Linked DNA regions of Homo sapiens. The protein of the gene in region 1 interacts with the protein of each later gene in a biochemical or structural test. Each region holds a gene or a part of one and is shown on either strand. Other genes may lie near its edges.

The links. The genes of interacting proteins can lie anywhere in the genome.
Region 2: of the proteins of TRA2A (region 1) and UBE4B, one has a biochemical effect on the other in vitro, tested with the Homo sapiens proteins (one study listed by BioGRID).

The regions. Positions count from the first base shown.
Region 1 is NC_000007.14:23,528,976-23,536,223, reverse strand, and holds the start of TRA2A (transformer-2 protein homolog alpha), read left to right. Parts: upstream 1-4,242; 5' UTR 4,243-4,399; coding exon 4,400-4,435; intron 4,436-4,953; exon of another isoform or gene 4,954-5,043; intron 5,044-7,248. UniProt on the Homo sapiens protein: Sequence-specific RNA-binding protein which participates in the control of pre-mRNA splicing.
Region 2 is NC_000001.11:10,035,934-10,042,957, forward strand, and holds part of UBE4B (ubiquitin conjugation factor E4 B), read left to right. Parts: intron 1-7,024. UniProt on the Homo sapiens protein: Ubiquitin-protein ligase that probably functions as an E3 ligase in conjunction with specific E1 and E2 ligases. May also function as an E4 ligase mediating the assembly of polyubiquitin chains on substrates ubiquitinated by another E3 ubiquitin ligase.

The DNA.
Region 1 (7,248 bases):
ACATCTAAAAAGCAAAGATGGGCTTTTTAATGCTGGGATCACTGGGTAGCCATTTGGAAAAGGTAAAATTAGATCTATAGTCCACATCATACATAAGAACAAATGCCAAATGGATCACGAATCTAAATGTAAAATATGAAGCTACATAACTACTAGAAGAAAACATAGTGAATTCCTCTTTAATCTCAGTATGGGAAAAGGCTAACTATGACTTAAAATCCAGGGGCAGCCGGGTGCACTGGCTCACACCTGTAATCCCAACACTTTGGGAGGCCGAGGCATGCGGATCACGAGGTCAGGAGTTTGAGACCAGCCTGACCAATACGGTGAAACCCCATCTCTACTAAAAATACAAAAATTAGCCGGACGTGGTGGTCCTCACCTGTAATCCCAGCTCAGGAGGCTGAGGCAGGAGAATCGCTTGAACCTGGAGGTGGAGGTTGCAGTGAGGCGAGATTGCGCCATTACACTCCAGCCTGGGCGACAGGGCAAGATTCCATTTCAAAAAAAAAAAAAAAATAGTGGCCAGGCACAGTGGCTCACGCCTGTAATCCCAGCACTTTGGGAGGCCAAGGTGGGTGGATCACCTGAAGTCAGGAGTTCAAGACCAGCCTGGCCAACATGGTGAAAACCCATCTCTACTAAAAAATACAAAAATTAGCTGGGTGTGGTGGTGCATGCCTGTAAGCCCAGCTACTTGGGAGGCGGAGGTTGCAGTGAGCCGAGAATGAGCCATTGCACTCCAGCCTGGGCAACAAGAGCAAAATTCAGTCTCAAAAAAAAAAAGTATGCTAATTTGGGAATCTTTTATTGCCATAGTAAAATTAATTAATTAAATTAAAAAATCAAAAAATAGTATGCAAAATATACCATAAGCAAAGTCAAATACAATTTACAAACTAGGAGAAAATATTTGCAACATAAAGCACAAATAAAAGGCTAATATTCCTAATATACAAGGAACTCATAAAACTTGAGGGACAAAGGATAAAAATCCAATAGAAAAATGGAAAATAGGCCGGGCACAGTGGCTCACACCTGTAATCCCAGCACTTTGGGAGGCCGAGGTGGGCGGATCACCTGAGGTCGGGAGTTCGAGACCAGCCGGACCAACCTGGAGAAACCCCGTCTCTACTAAAAATACAAAATTAGCCAGACGTGCTGGCGCATGCCTGTAATCCCAGCTACTCGAGAGGCTGAGGCAGGAGAATCGCTTTAACCCGGGAGGCGGAGGTTGCAGTGAGCTGAGATCGTGCCATTGCACTCCAGCCTGGGCAACAAGAGTGAAACTCCGTCTCGGAAAAAAAAAAAAAGAAAAATGGAAAATAGACAATTCCGAAAAAAGGACATTATATATATGTTTAAACATATCAAAAGTTTATAACTGAAATCTGGGACAATTCAAGCAACAAAATAAATAATGATAGCAATGGATTATAACTCATAAAGCAAATATCTCCTATCATCCCGGCACTTTGGGAGGCCGAGGTGGGTGGATCACTCGAGGCCAGGAGTTAGAGACTAGCCTGGCCAACATCAAAACCCCGTCTCTACAAAAAAATACAAAAATTAGCCGAGCACAGTGGCATGCACCTGTGGTCTCAGCTACTGGGGAGGCTAAGGCAGAATAATCTCTAGAGCCCGAGAGACAGAGGTTGCAGTGAGCCAAGACTGTGCCACTGTACTCCAGCCTGGGCACGGGAGTGAAACTCTGTCTCAAAAAAAAAGGCAAAGAAAAAAGAAACTACTCTTCTAGGCCCGGCCTGGTTCCTCAACACTTTGGGAGGCCTAGGCGGCAGGATCACTTGAGCCCAGGAGTTTGAGAGCAGCCTGGGCAACATGGCAAAACCTGGTCTCTACAATAATTTAAAAATTAGCTGGGCATGGTGTTGGGGGCCTGTAGTCCCAGCTATGTGAGAGGGTGTGGTGGGAGGATCGTTGGAGCCATGATTGTGCCACTGCACTCCAGCCTGGGTGACAGAGTCAGATTATGTCTCCAAAAAATAAATAAAAGGAAAAAAGGGTAGGGGGGAAGACTCTTAGTCCATAATAGTCTACCTTTCTCCCATCCTTGATTGTGAATTTAATCTGTTGGGGAATGTGGTTATTTGTCCTGTGGAAGTTGATTACTTCATCTCGGTGTTTTTATTTTTCCCTTTCTTGTATTTCCTGTAAACTGTTGGCTAGATCTAAGGTTTAATTAGATTTGAGTTCAATTTGAGGGATCAGGAATACTTCACAGGAGGAACTGGGTATTTTCTATTGCATCACATCATGAGGTATCTCGTATCTGGTTATCTCACTTTTAATGGTACTAAGATTGATCAGTGGTTCAAATGGTATCAACCTGGCTGGGCGTGGCAGCTCACGTCTGTAATCCCAGCACTTTGGGAGGCTGAGGCGGGCAGATCATCTGAAGTCACAAGTTCCAGCCCACGCTGGCCAACATGGTGAAACCCCATCTCTACGAAAAATACAAAAATTAGCCGGGTGTGGTGGCACGCACTGTAATCCCAGCTACTCGGGAAGCTGAGCCAGGAGAATCACTTGAACCCGGAGGTGGAGGTTGCAGTGAGCCGAGATCGCGCCACTGCACTCCAGCCTGGGTGACAGAGCAAGTCTCCGTCTCAATAATAATAATAATAATTTCTTTTGTAGAGATGGGGGCTCACCATGTTGACCAGGCTGGTTTCGAACTTCTGGCCTCAAGCGATCTTCCGCCTAGGGTCTCCAAAGTACTGGGATTACAGGCGTCAGCCACCACACCCAGCCAAGTTCAACATCTTTTCTAAGAGCCAGATGTCATTTAAGTTTATCCCTATCAATAACTGACATTCAAATGCTGAAATCTTGCCCCCAGTGGTAGCAATCTTCATAATAATGCCAGATGAACTTTCCTACCATAGAACTATAGTTGAAAGTCTATGTCAATCTTTTTACTACAAAGCACTGTAGGAAAAAAATTTAAGATGAAACTAATTTTTAAAGTTGCATTACACAAGTAAAACTCATCTCAGAGATTATTACTATGATTGGGAACCAAGTTGACAGATTTGGGAGGTCTTCACTGTGAAGCTTTATGGAAATATCTAAGTCAAAAAAACTAGTAGGGAGCTAAGCATTATAAAAAAAAAACTACACGGCTGTCTCTAGGAGGGGGAACTGGAGCAGGGACACGAGGCAAGGAGCAGCGGCTTTGCATCATAACCTCATCTGTGCATGTACTACGTCGACATTACACAGGGCAAATATGGAAGAAAAGTAATACAGTCAGCTGACAACGTGCCCCCCAAAAGCCTGTTATATATACACGATTCCAGCCGGGCGCGGTGGCTCAGGCCTGTAATCTCAGCACTTTGGGAGGCCGAGGCGAGCAGATCGCTTGAGTCCACAAATTCGAGACCAGCCTGGGCAGCATGTCAAAACCCCATCTCTGCAAAACACACAAAAATTAGCCGGGTGGGCCGGGTACGGTGGTTCACCCTTGCAATCTCAGCACTTTGAGAGGCCCAGGCGGGCAAATCACCTGAGGTCAGGAGTTTGAGACCAGCCTGTCCAACATGGTGAAACCCCCGTCTCTGCTAAAAATACAAAAATTAGCCGGGCGTGGTGGTGCATGCCTGTAATCCCAGCTACTGGGGAGGCTGAGGCAGGAGAATTGCTTGAACCTGCGAGGTGGAGGTTGCAATGAACCTAGATAGCGCCACTGCACTTCAGCCTGGGCAACAGAGTGAGACTCCGTCCCAAAAAAGAAAAAAATTAGCCGGGCGTGGTGGCGCGCGCGGGAGCCTGAGGTGGGAGGATCGTCTGAGCCCGGGAGTTTGAGGCTGTGGTGAGCAGTGATCGCTTCACTGCACTTCAGCTTGGGTGACAGAGCGAGACCCTGACTCAAAAAATAAACAAACATAAAAAAACGCTTCCAATGTTTTGTTCCCTTACATCAGAATCCACTTGGACAATATTTAAAGGGGCTAAGGTCATATAAGGCTCATCTGGCGACTGAAAAGTCTTCAAAGAGGTTGACGCGTCCGAGGTGAGTCTGAAGTTTGGAGGACAGCACGGGACCGCGATTCCAAGGCGCCCAGGTTGAGAGCGCAGGCCGCCCGCCAACCTCCACCCTCGCTCCAGGCCCAGCCGACACAAAGCCTCGCGGGAGGTGGAGCCTCGTGACGTCACAGAGACGCCCGCCCCCTTTACGTCGTGCTCTGAGGAGGCCAGGAGATTTCTGGCGGCGCCGGCGCCATTTTGCTGGAGCCTGCGACCGAGTGGGAGTGGAGTGGAGCGGCTGTGGTTGCCGACTCTTTCCTCTTCCCCACGGTCCAGTCAGCGGGTTAATTAGGCCATCGGCCCTCGAGCCGAGACTTGTCTCTTATTTAGTTCTGGGGAGCGCCTCGTCGACATGAGTGATGTGGAGGAAAACAACTTCGAGGGCAGAGTGAGTACAAAGCCGCGGGAGCCGTCTAGGCGGCGGCCCAATGCTCGGGGTTTCACGGGAACAAGCGCGGTCGGGCGGGGTTGCGGGTAGTCCCGCGAGGAGCAACCTCTGGAGCCATCGCGATTGATTCCTCCCATCCCAAGATGGCTTCTGGGTTCCACTCCTTCCCCAAACACCACGGATAACACCCCTCCCCCTTTTTTGGAGGCTGACTGATACCTGGACTTCTGGGTCCTCTTCCCTCCCCGCCCCCGCATTGCTTCCTCCCTTCTCCCCACCCCTGAGGCTTCCTTATGTCTGCTCCGAGGTGTGGGTCCCCGTCGCGGTTGGGCGGGAGGAGGCGGCAGGGAGCTCCCCTCCGTCCGGATAGTGGTAGGTGCTTCCTGCGGTGGCATTTCTGGCGACCCCGAGCATCGTAGAGGGTCTCGGGATCGAAAGTGCGCGGGGCTGCTTTCCGGGCGGGGAGAAGCTGGCGTGGGACTAGCTGGGGCCTGTGTCTCCTTGGCTCTCTATTTCAGTGAGCGGCCGCGTCTCTGTTGGAACCGGCGGCGTTGCGTCTAAAAAGGCGAAAGCCTTGAGGTTGAAGGTGGGACGAGCCTAATGAAGTGGTTAGTCAACGACCGCACCGACCCTTAAGCGTTCTTAAGACGAGAGCTGTGAGGGGAAACTACGCAAGGAGCCCTTTTCCCTTAATGTCCCTTCGACTTTCCTTTCACTTCGAAATGAATGTGGAAATGCTGTCACGCCTTATTTTTCTAATTCCTCGATGTTGGGTTTTTTCTCTTCTTTATATCTCAACTTTTAATGCTCTTCTTCCTATGACCTTTCATCTAAAAACTGACCACTCCTTTACAGGTTTTTACGGTAAAAAAAAAAAAATCTGTCTTTCTTTAATCTTACATAGCTGAACGAATTCATTGGCTCAGTATTTTTAAGATAACTAGTCAGTATATACTGTTCTGTAACTTAAAAGATGACCTGAAAATTAACAGGCCCTCTCCCATTTCTCTTCTCACTCTATCCCCCACCGAAGAGGGCTCAGAAAAAAGTTTTTATTAATATATTTGGGGTCGGAGAAATACAAACATCACAAAGAATACGATATCCCCAGCTTAAATGTACTGGAACGTTTGTCAGTGAGTTTCATTTCCAAAGTTTACCCTACATAGGGAATTGTAGAAGTGAGTTAGTAGAAGTGAGTTCGTGTGAAACCCTGGAAAGAAAACAAAAGCCCCATGCAACACGTTCCGGGCTGTTGTGTAGATGTTTATTCTAGTCACTAGGGGAAGCACATAAAAACACCTGAGGTGTGTGTGCTGAAGGGCGAATTTTGTCCTTTTGGGGAGTTCATGATATAAACATCTAGAACCAAAAAGTCAAATCAGAAGGTCAGTTTAGGCTTTAGTTCTCTTTGAGGAAAGATTTAAAGCAATAGACTATAATAGTTACCCGGTAGACTAAAAAATTTGCCTTTAATTCTTTTGATTGGAATTTTTTTTTACAAAGTTTGGAGCATGGAAACAAATGAAAATTGAACCTGCTTATTTTTTAGGATGGTGTATTGATGGCCCCAACAGAACTTTCTAAAATCATGCGATAAACATATATGATAGTAGTTGTAAAATGCTTCTTGTTTTGAAAATGTTGAGTAATTATCGATAGAAATTTTGCTGTCCATTCATACATTCCTTCAATTAACTTTCATTGTTAAAAAATTGGGGGATTGATGTTTGGTTTGGTTTGTGGGGAGTGAAGAGGACTACTGGAGGGACCTTGTTTGCTTGCTTTTTTTCTTTTTTTAATTTATCATCAAGTCTAGGAAAGGAGTAAGTTGCCGACAATTGTCACTTTTCCCTCCTAAGAAAGTAACATGTTAAGATTCCCACCTACCAGCCTGGGTGACAGTGAGACTCCCGTCTCAAAAAAAAAAAAAAAGATTCCCACCCACTTTTAAGCTAAAGTATATGTAGGCATTAAAGATTTATTTAATAGAAATAAAGGGCCCTCTTACGGCCCTTTGTGGTCATAGGAAATATTTTTTTCACAAGTGGTACCCAAGTGTATTTTAGTGTAAATCAACTAGTGCTTGTAGGCTCACCTGTTGTATCTTTTTATTTTTCGTCTTTTAGTTTTTATAGGATGAGATAATTGTCTTTATTTGTAATTGGTTAAAGAATTAGAACAATGCGAGAAGCTTGTCTGGAGATGCCCTTTTTAAAATCGTTTCTGGCCGGGCGCAGTGGCTCACGCCTGTAATCCAACAATTTTTGGGAGGCTGAGGCGGGTGGATTACTTGAGGTTAGGAGTTCGAGACTAGCCTGCCCAACGTGGTGAAACCCTGTCTCTACTAAAAATACAAAATTAGCCGGGCGTGGTGGCGTGCGCCTGTGATCACAGCTACTTAGGAGGCTGAGGCAGGAGAATTACTTGAACCTGGGAGGCGGAATTGCGCCACGACACTCCAGTCTAGGCAACAGAATGAGACTCTTGTCTCAAAAATAAGTAAATACGTAGGTCCATAAAAGCAATTTTAAGTGGAGATGTCCTTTGGAGCTGGGAGTGAAGGTAGCACTTAAGCGGTGGCTTTGCATGTCTTGATAAAAGTAATGAGTTGTTTGCCTCAATACAGCTTCAACTAAAATTCGGATTTTGAGCTCAAAAAATGTTAATGCCCTTCATAGAAATTAAGGGGAATGGAAATCTTTTCTTAACATTTTACACCTCTACCCCTAAAATTTTAAGAACTGTACTTTATAAAAATGTGCAATTTTCATACAGCATCCCAGTGTTGATCATGGAGGTTAATGATTCTT
Region 2 (7,024 bases), on another chromosome or scaffold:
GGGGTTTCACCGTGTTAGCCCAGGATGGTCTCAATCTCCTGACCTCGTGATCCGCCCGCCTCGGCCTTCCAAAGTGCTGGGATTACAGGTGTGAGCCACCGCGCCCGGCCGAGGTAGTTTTTTAGTAGTCCTTTACTCCTATAAATTACTTTTTTTTTTTTTTTTTGATGATCTGTTAATAGTCCTTGGTTTAGAGGCTTTTGCATACTTGAGTTTTCACCAAAAAATTCTTTTCAAACCAGTGAGGCATTACAGACCAGTGAAGATATTGTATAATCTAAAATGTGTCTCTTCACTTTCATCAGTCCTTGAGGAAGGTGTAACTTTTTTTTGTGACCATATGAGGAACACATGTAACCTTTGTGGAAGAAATAGAATAAACTTTTTTCAAGGTCAACAGAATATTAAAATAAATGAAAAAAATTAAATTCACTAATACAGGATCAATGTAAAATTATCTTCAACAAATTAGTTGTCCAGAACACAAAGGGCTGGTTCAATAACTGTTAATTTTACTCTCAGCAGAACCTAGAACAAATAATATTCGTTTGTTTTTAATTTAAAAAATCTTTTTTTTTTTTGTAGAGACGGGGGTCTTGCCATGTTTCCCAGGATGGTCTCAAACTCCTGACCTCAAGCGATCCTCCCACTTCAGCCTCCCAAAGTGGGAGCCAGACAAATAGTTATTTTGGGAAAAATATCTTTGAAGTTTTTCTTTTTAATTCAATTAAAAATTTTTGAGGTTAGGTAAGCAGTTCTCATGAGACATTTCCAAAGCTTTTGCCTTTGTATTGTTACTCTGTAGTTGAAAACTTGTGTCAGATATGGTAGGTGACATTGATTTGATTACAAAATAATACACTTATATTATTGAAACTTCAAGCTTATATTTCAGGGTTAAAACAGGCAAGGCGGTGATCTTTTAATCTAATTTAGGAAATTAGGTAAGGCAGAGTTTCATATTTTAACAAAATGAAAATGTATGATTATACAGTCCGTGAAAAAGGCTGGTATAACCAGACTGGTAGCTTTAGGAACTTTTAAATTATGTGCACTTTTTGGTCCCTGTCATAGATCACCTAGAATTCTTGTGCTTTTTAAATTTTTTTGTGAGACAGAGTTTCGCTCTTGTTGCCCAGGCTGGAGTGCAATGGCGCGATCTTGGCTCATTGCAACCTCTGCCTCCCGGGTTCAAGCGATTTTCCTGCGTCAGCCTCCCAAGTAGCTGGAATTACAGGCATGCGCCACCATACCCGGCTAATTTTGTATTTTTAGTAGCGACGGGGTTTCTCCATGTTGGTCAGGCTGGTCTTGAACTCCTGACCTCAGGTGATCTGCCTGCCTCGGCCTCCCAAAGTGCTGGGATTACAGGCATGAGCCACTGTGCCCGGTAGTCTTGTGCTTTTAAGTAGAGTACTTTAACTTCACTGTTGTTTGTTATTTATATAGTGTATTACAGTGAGTTCATTGCCCTATAGTTCACTGCCTATAGGTTCATTGCAGAACCATGACTAAGTTCATTCTCTTCAGGAACCTACATTCCAAGGCATCATTATTTACATTATATTAATTCTATAATCTACTCATGTGTTGTTTTTCGTATCTCAAGGTGGTGCTGTGAGTAGGTGGTGTGTTTATTTTTGAGATAGGGTCTGGCTCTATCGCCCAGTCTGGAATGCAATGGCATGATCTTGGCTCACTGCAACCTCTGCCTCCTGGGCTCAAGTGATCCTCCCACCTCAGCCTCCCAAGCTGAGACTACAGGCTCATGCCACCACACCTGGCCAATTTTTGTATTTTTTTCTAGAGACAGGGTTTCACCATGTTGCCCAGGCTGGTCTCAAACTCCTGGGCTCAAGTGATCCACCCGCCTTGGCCTCCCAAAGTGCTGAGATTACAGGCATGAGCCACCATGCCCAGCCAAGTAGGTGTTTTAAACTGTTTTTCGACAATGGTAATGAGATTGCATAAGTGATTTTTCTCTCCTAACTCTTCTTTATGACCTAGTTCATCTGCAAGATGGTTGGCTGGGATTCCGGGTGTGGTCAAGATTTTAGAAAGTGTTGGCCGGGCGCAGTGGCCCACGCCTGTAATCCCAGCGCTTTGGGAGGCCGAGGTGGGTGGATCACCTGAGTTCGGGAGTTCAAGACCAGCCTGTCCAACATGGAGAAACCCCATCTCTACTAAAAATACAAAATTAGCTGGGCGTGGTGGCACATGCCTGTGATCCGAGGTACTCAGGAGGCTGAGGCAGGAGAATTGCTTGAACCCGGGAGGCGGAGGTTGCAGTGGGCCGAGATCACACCACTACACTCCAGCCTGGGCAACAAGAGTGAAACTCCATCTCAAAAAAAAAAAAAAAAGATTTAGAAAGTGTTTTAAGTATTCCTTTCCAAATGCAGAATATGTGACCTTGGACTTTTTAGCAAGGTTCTGTAAGTGGAAGAAAATTGACATTAAACAACAGCCTTAGGAGCCTCTTCTGTGCCAGGCACTTGATAGCTGTTTCTCATTAGAGAAAACATTATAATCAAGCAGGTACTGTTTTCCTAATTTTACAAGTCAGGAAACTGGGATTCAGGTTAAGTAACTTGTCCATAGCGACCTGGCTTAGAAGTGATGGGGTTGGAATTCAAACCCAGTGCTCTGGACTCGAAAGTCCTCTTTATTCTACTGCTCAACAACTGACATAAATTCACCACAGCTTTTGTATCAACATCCTACGTAACACTGACCCACTCTGTTTTGATATACATAGTTTTTCTGTAGAAGTGCTGTTTTGCATGAATGCATTCATGATGTGATCAGGGCTTTTGGTACTGGTCCTCCCACTCCCAATTTTTTTTTTAAATGCCTGTCGCGTTAAAAATTTGGGAGTTGGGGCCGGGCGCGGTGGCTCACGCCTGTAATCCCAGCACTTCGGGAGGTCGAGGCAGGCGGATCACGTGAAACCCCGTCTCTACTAAAAATACAAAAATTTGCTGGGTGTGATGGTACGCACCTGTAATCCCAGCTACTCAGGAGGCTGAAGTAGGAGAATTGCTTAAACTCAGGAGACAGAGGTTGCAGTGAGCCGAGATTGCGCCACTGTACTCTAGCCTGGGAGGCAGAGCAAGACTCCATCAAAAAAACAAACAAACAAAAAAACACACACACAGAAAAACAAACAAAAAAGCAATTATAATTAAATTTGAGTAGAGGAGATAGATAGGAATCCAACAGTTATAGAATAGTGCCAGGTGCTATGGTGGAGGTATGCACAACTCACTTAAGAAACATGAGAAGGGACCCCGGGAGAGGCAGGGTCTTAGTGAAGACTTTCAAGAAAAAGTGATACTTAACGCTGAGTAGCAGTTGCCCTGGGAACTGGCTCGAAATTGGGGAGCTCAAGAAACAGCAGCAAGTAGTGTGACTGGAGAGGTGGGTTTTACCTCGGGTGTGTGGCAGGTACCTGATCTTGGAGGGCTGTCAGAAACGTTTAGGAGTTTGAACTTTCTTTTTGTTGTTGTTTTTTGGGACAGAATCTCTCTCTGTTGCCCAGGCTGGAGTGAAGTGGCATGATCTCGGCTCACTGCAGCCTCTGGTTCCCGGGTTCAAGTGATTCTCCTGCCTCAGCCTCCCAAGTAGCTGGGATTACAGGTGCATGCCACCATGCCCTGCTGATTTTTTTTTTTTTTTGTATTTTTAGTAAAGATGGGGTTTTACCATGTTGACTAGGCTGGTTTCAAACTCCTGACCTCAAGTGGCCCACCTGCCTCTGCCTGCCAAAGTGCTGGGATTACAGGCGTGAGCCACTGCACGTGGCTGAGTTTGAACTTTCTCTGTAAAATGCCTTTTAGGGATTTTAAGAGATTAGAAAGATGGGTGGCAAGGGAGTAAAGGGTAGTTTGGGAGAAGGTGGCTGCAGACTGCAAGACATATTAGGAGGCTGTTGTTGCTGTATAGGAGCGAGGCAGTGGAGTCCAAGGGAACTAAGGCATTGCCTGTGGGAATGGAGGGGAGCAGACAGACACCAAAAATACCAAGGACTGTGATTAACCCAGTTTTGATGATCAGTTAGCTGTGAAGGAGGGGAGGGGAGGAGAGATGGAGAAATGACACCTTGGTTTCTAGCTATGGAGAAGGATAGATAAGGGTTGAATAAGGAATTCCAGAGAAGCAGCAGATTTTGGAGAAAGCACATGTTTCTTTTTTTTTTTTTCGTCTTTTGAGACAGGGTCTCCCTCTGTCGCCCAGGCTGGAGTGCAGTGGCGCAACCTCAGCTCACTGCAACCTCTGCCCCCTGGGTTCAAGTGATTCTCCTGCCTCAGCCTTCCAAGTAGCTGCCAGCCATGCCCAGCTAATTTTTTAATTTTTAGTAGAGACGGTGTTTCACCATATTGGCCAGGCTGGTCTTGAACTCCAGACCTTGGTGATCCGCCTGCCATGGCCTCCCAAAGTGCTGGGATTACAGGTGTCAGCTACCACGCCAGGCCTCCGGCTAATTTTTGTATATTTTGTAGAGACAGGGTCTTGCCATGTTGCCCAGGCTGGTCTCAAACTCCTGGGCTCAAGTGATCTGCCCACCTCAGCCTCCCAGAGTGCTGAGATTGCAAGTTTAATTTTGGACCACCAAAAAGATGAGTCCACATGTAGACCCCCACTCTGGCCTTGGTGCTCTAACATCTCCATTTCTTTCTTCTTTTTTCTTTTTTTTTTTTTGAGATGGAGTTTCGCTCTTGTTGCCCAGGCTGGAGTGCAATGGCGCGATCTCAGCTCGCTGCAACCTCTGCCTCCCAGGTTCAAGCGATTCTCCTGCCTCAGCCTCCCGAGTAGCTGGGATTACAAGCATGTACCACCATGCCTGGCTAATTTTTTTGTATTTTTATTAGAGACGGGATTTCTCCATGTTGGCTTGGCGGGTCTCAAACTCTTGACCTTAGGTGATCTGCCTGCCTCAGCCTCCCAAAGTGCTGGGATTACCGGCGTGAGCCACCGCACCCAGCCTAACATCCCCACCTCTTTGACCATTTCTTCCCTTGTAACAGGCCTGAGGACCTGAGGTCCCTTTTTTCCTCAGAAGATAGTTGCTACCATTCACTTTATAACCAGGACTCTTTCTTAAGCCTGGGAGGACAGTGGGATGTATCCTGCCAGGCCCTTTCCTCTCCTTTTGTTCATTGTAGACAAGAGACAGAGAATGATAATAAGGATATAAACTTGCTTCACAAGGTTGGCATCCTTATCCCCTGTTTTACAGATAAGAAAATGGAGGCTAATAGAAATTAATTTATTGAAAGGCACACAACTAGTAAGTGGTAGAACCTGGACTCTAATCCAGGTTCTGACTCCAGAGTTTTCTATCGCTTTACTACCTCTAAAACAAGACTTAACCTCAGCCAACTGTAACCTTTTTGGCATTCTTTTTTTTTTTTTTTTTTGATGGAGTTTCGCTCTCGTCACTCAGGCTTGAGTGCAATGGCCTGATCTCGGCTCACTGCAACCTCTGCCTCCTGGGTTCAAGCAATTCTCCTGCCTAAGCCTCCCAAGTAGCTTTGATTACAGGCTCCCGCCAGCATGCCCAGCTAATTTTTGTATTTTTAGTAGAGATGGGGTTTCTCCAAGTTGGCCAGGCTGGTCTCGAACTTCTGACCTCAGGCGATCCCCCCGCCTCGGCCTTCCAAAGTGCTGGGATTACAAGCGTGAACGACTGTGCCCGGCCACATTTATAGCATTCTTACGGTCCCTTCTGAGATAGGAAGTGGAAGCCCCAGTGGACTTTTTGTTTGTTTGTTTGTTTTTTAAGACAGAGCCTCGCTGTGTCCCCATGCTGGAGTGCAGTGGCACGATCTCTGCTCACTGCAACCTCCGCCTCCCGAGTTCAAGTGATTCTCCTGCCTCAGCCTCCCGAGTAGCTGGGGTTACAGGCACATGCCACTACTGCCCGGCTAATTTTTGTATTTTTAGTAGAGGGGTTTCACCATGTTGGCCAGGCTGGTCTCAAACTCCTGACCTCAAATGATCCACCCACCTCAGCCTCCCAAAGTTGTGGGATTACAGGCATGATGCTGGAGTGCAGTGGTGCTATCTTGGCTCACTACAACCTCTGACTCCTGAATTCAAGCGATTCTCCTGGGTCAGCCCCTCGAGTATCTGGGATTACAGGCGCCCGCCGCCAGGCCCAGCCCTCCAGTGGACTTTCATTCCCGTTTGTTATTGCTGAGAGTGGAGCTCATCAAGTAGCCCCAAGCTCTTGTAGGGAAAGAAGGCAGAAAGACTTCTCTGTGCAAAGTGCATTTTCTCACACGGCACTTGTAGTATCTAGTGGAAATGTCTTCCTGTAAACGGTTCATTCAACAGCGCTTACAGTTGACTAGCTGCATCCCTGATAACAGACAAACGTTGCTGTATGGAGCTTCGTCCTAGTGGGAGGAGAGGGATAAAAAACAAGCATGGCCGGGCGTGGTGGCTCACGCCTGTAATCCCAGCACTTTGGGATGCTGAGGCGGGTGGATCACGAGGTCAGGAGTTCGAGACCAGCCTGACCAACATGGTGAAACCCTGTCTCTACTAAAAATACAAAAATTAGCCGGGCGTGGTGGTGCACGCCTGTAATCCTAGCAACTCAGGAGGCTGAGGCAGGAGAATAGCTTGAACCCGGGAGGCAGGGGTTACAGTGAGCTGAGATTGCACCACTGCACTCTAGCCTGGGCGACAGAGTGAGACTGTGTCTCAAAAGCAAAGAAACAAACAAACAAACATGTTCACATAAGGTGTCATTTGATGAGAAGTGCTGTGAAGAGAAATACTTAGGGATGGAGTATTGTTACAGAGTATTTCTGTGGCCTACAGGTACAGAGAACAATCAGATATGTGTAACGTGTGCACTTTGAGGAGGTGGTCTTGAAAAGAATTTCAGGGATGGCTGGGAGCTTGCTCGGGGAAGAATGTTCCCAGGTAAAGGGAACAGCAGGTTCAGAAGGCCTTGAGGTAAACTCATTCTTGAGCTGTTCCAGGAATAGCAAGGATGCCAAGCATGGTTAGA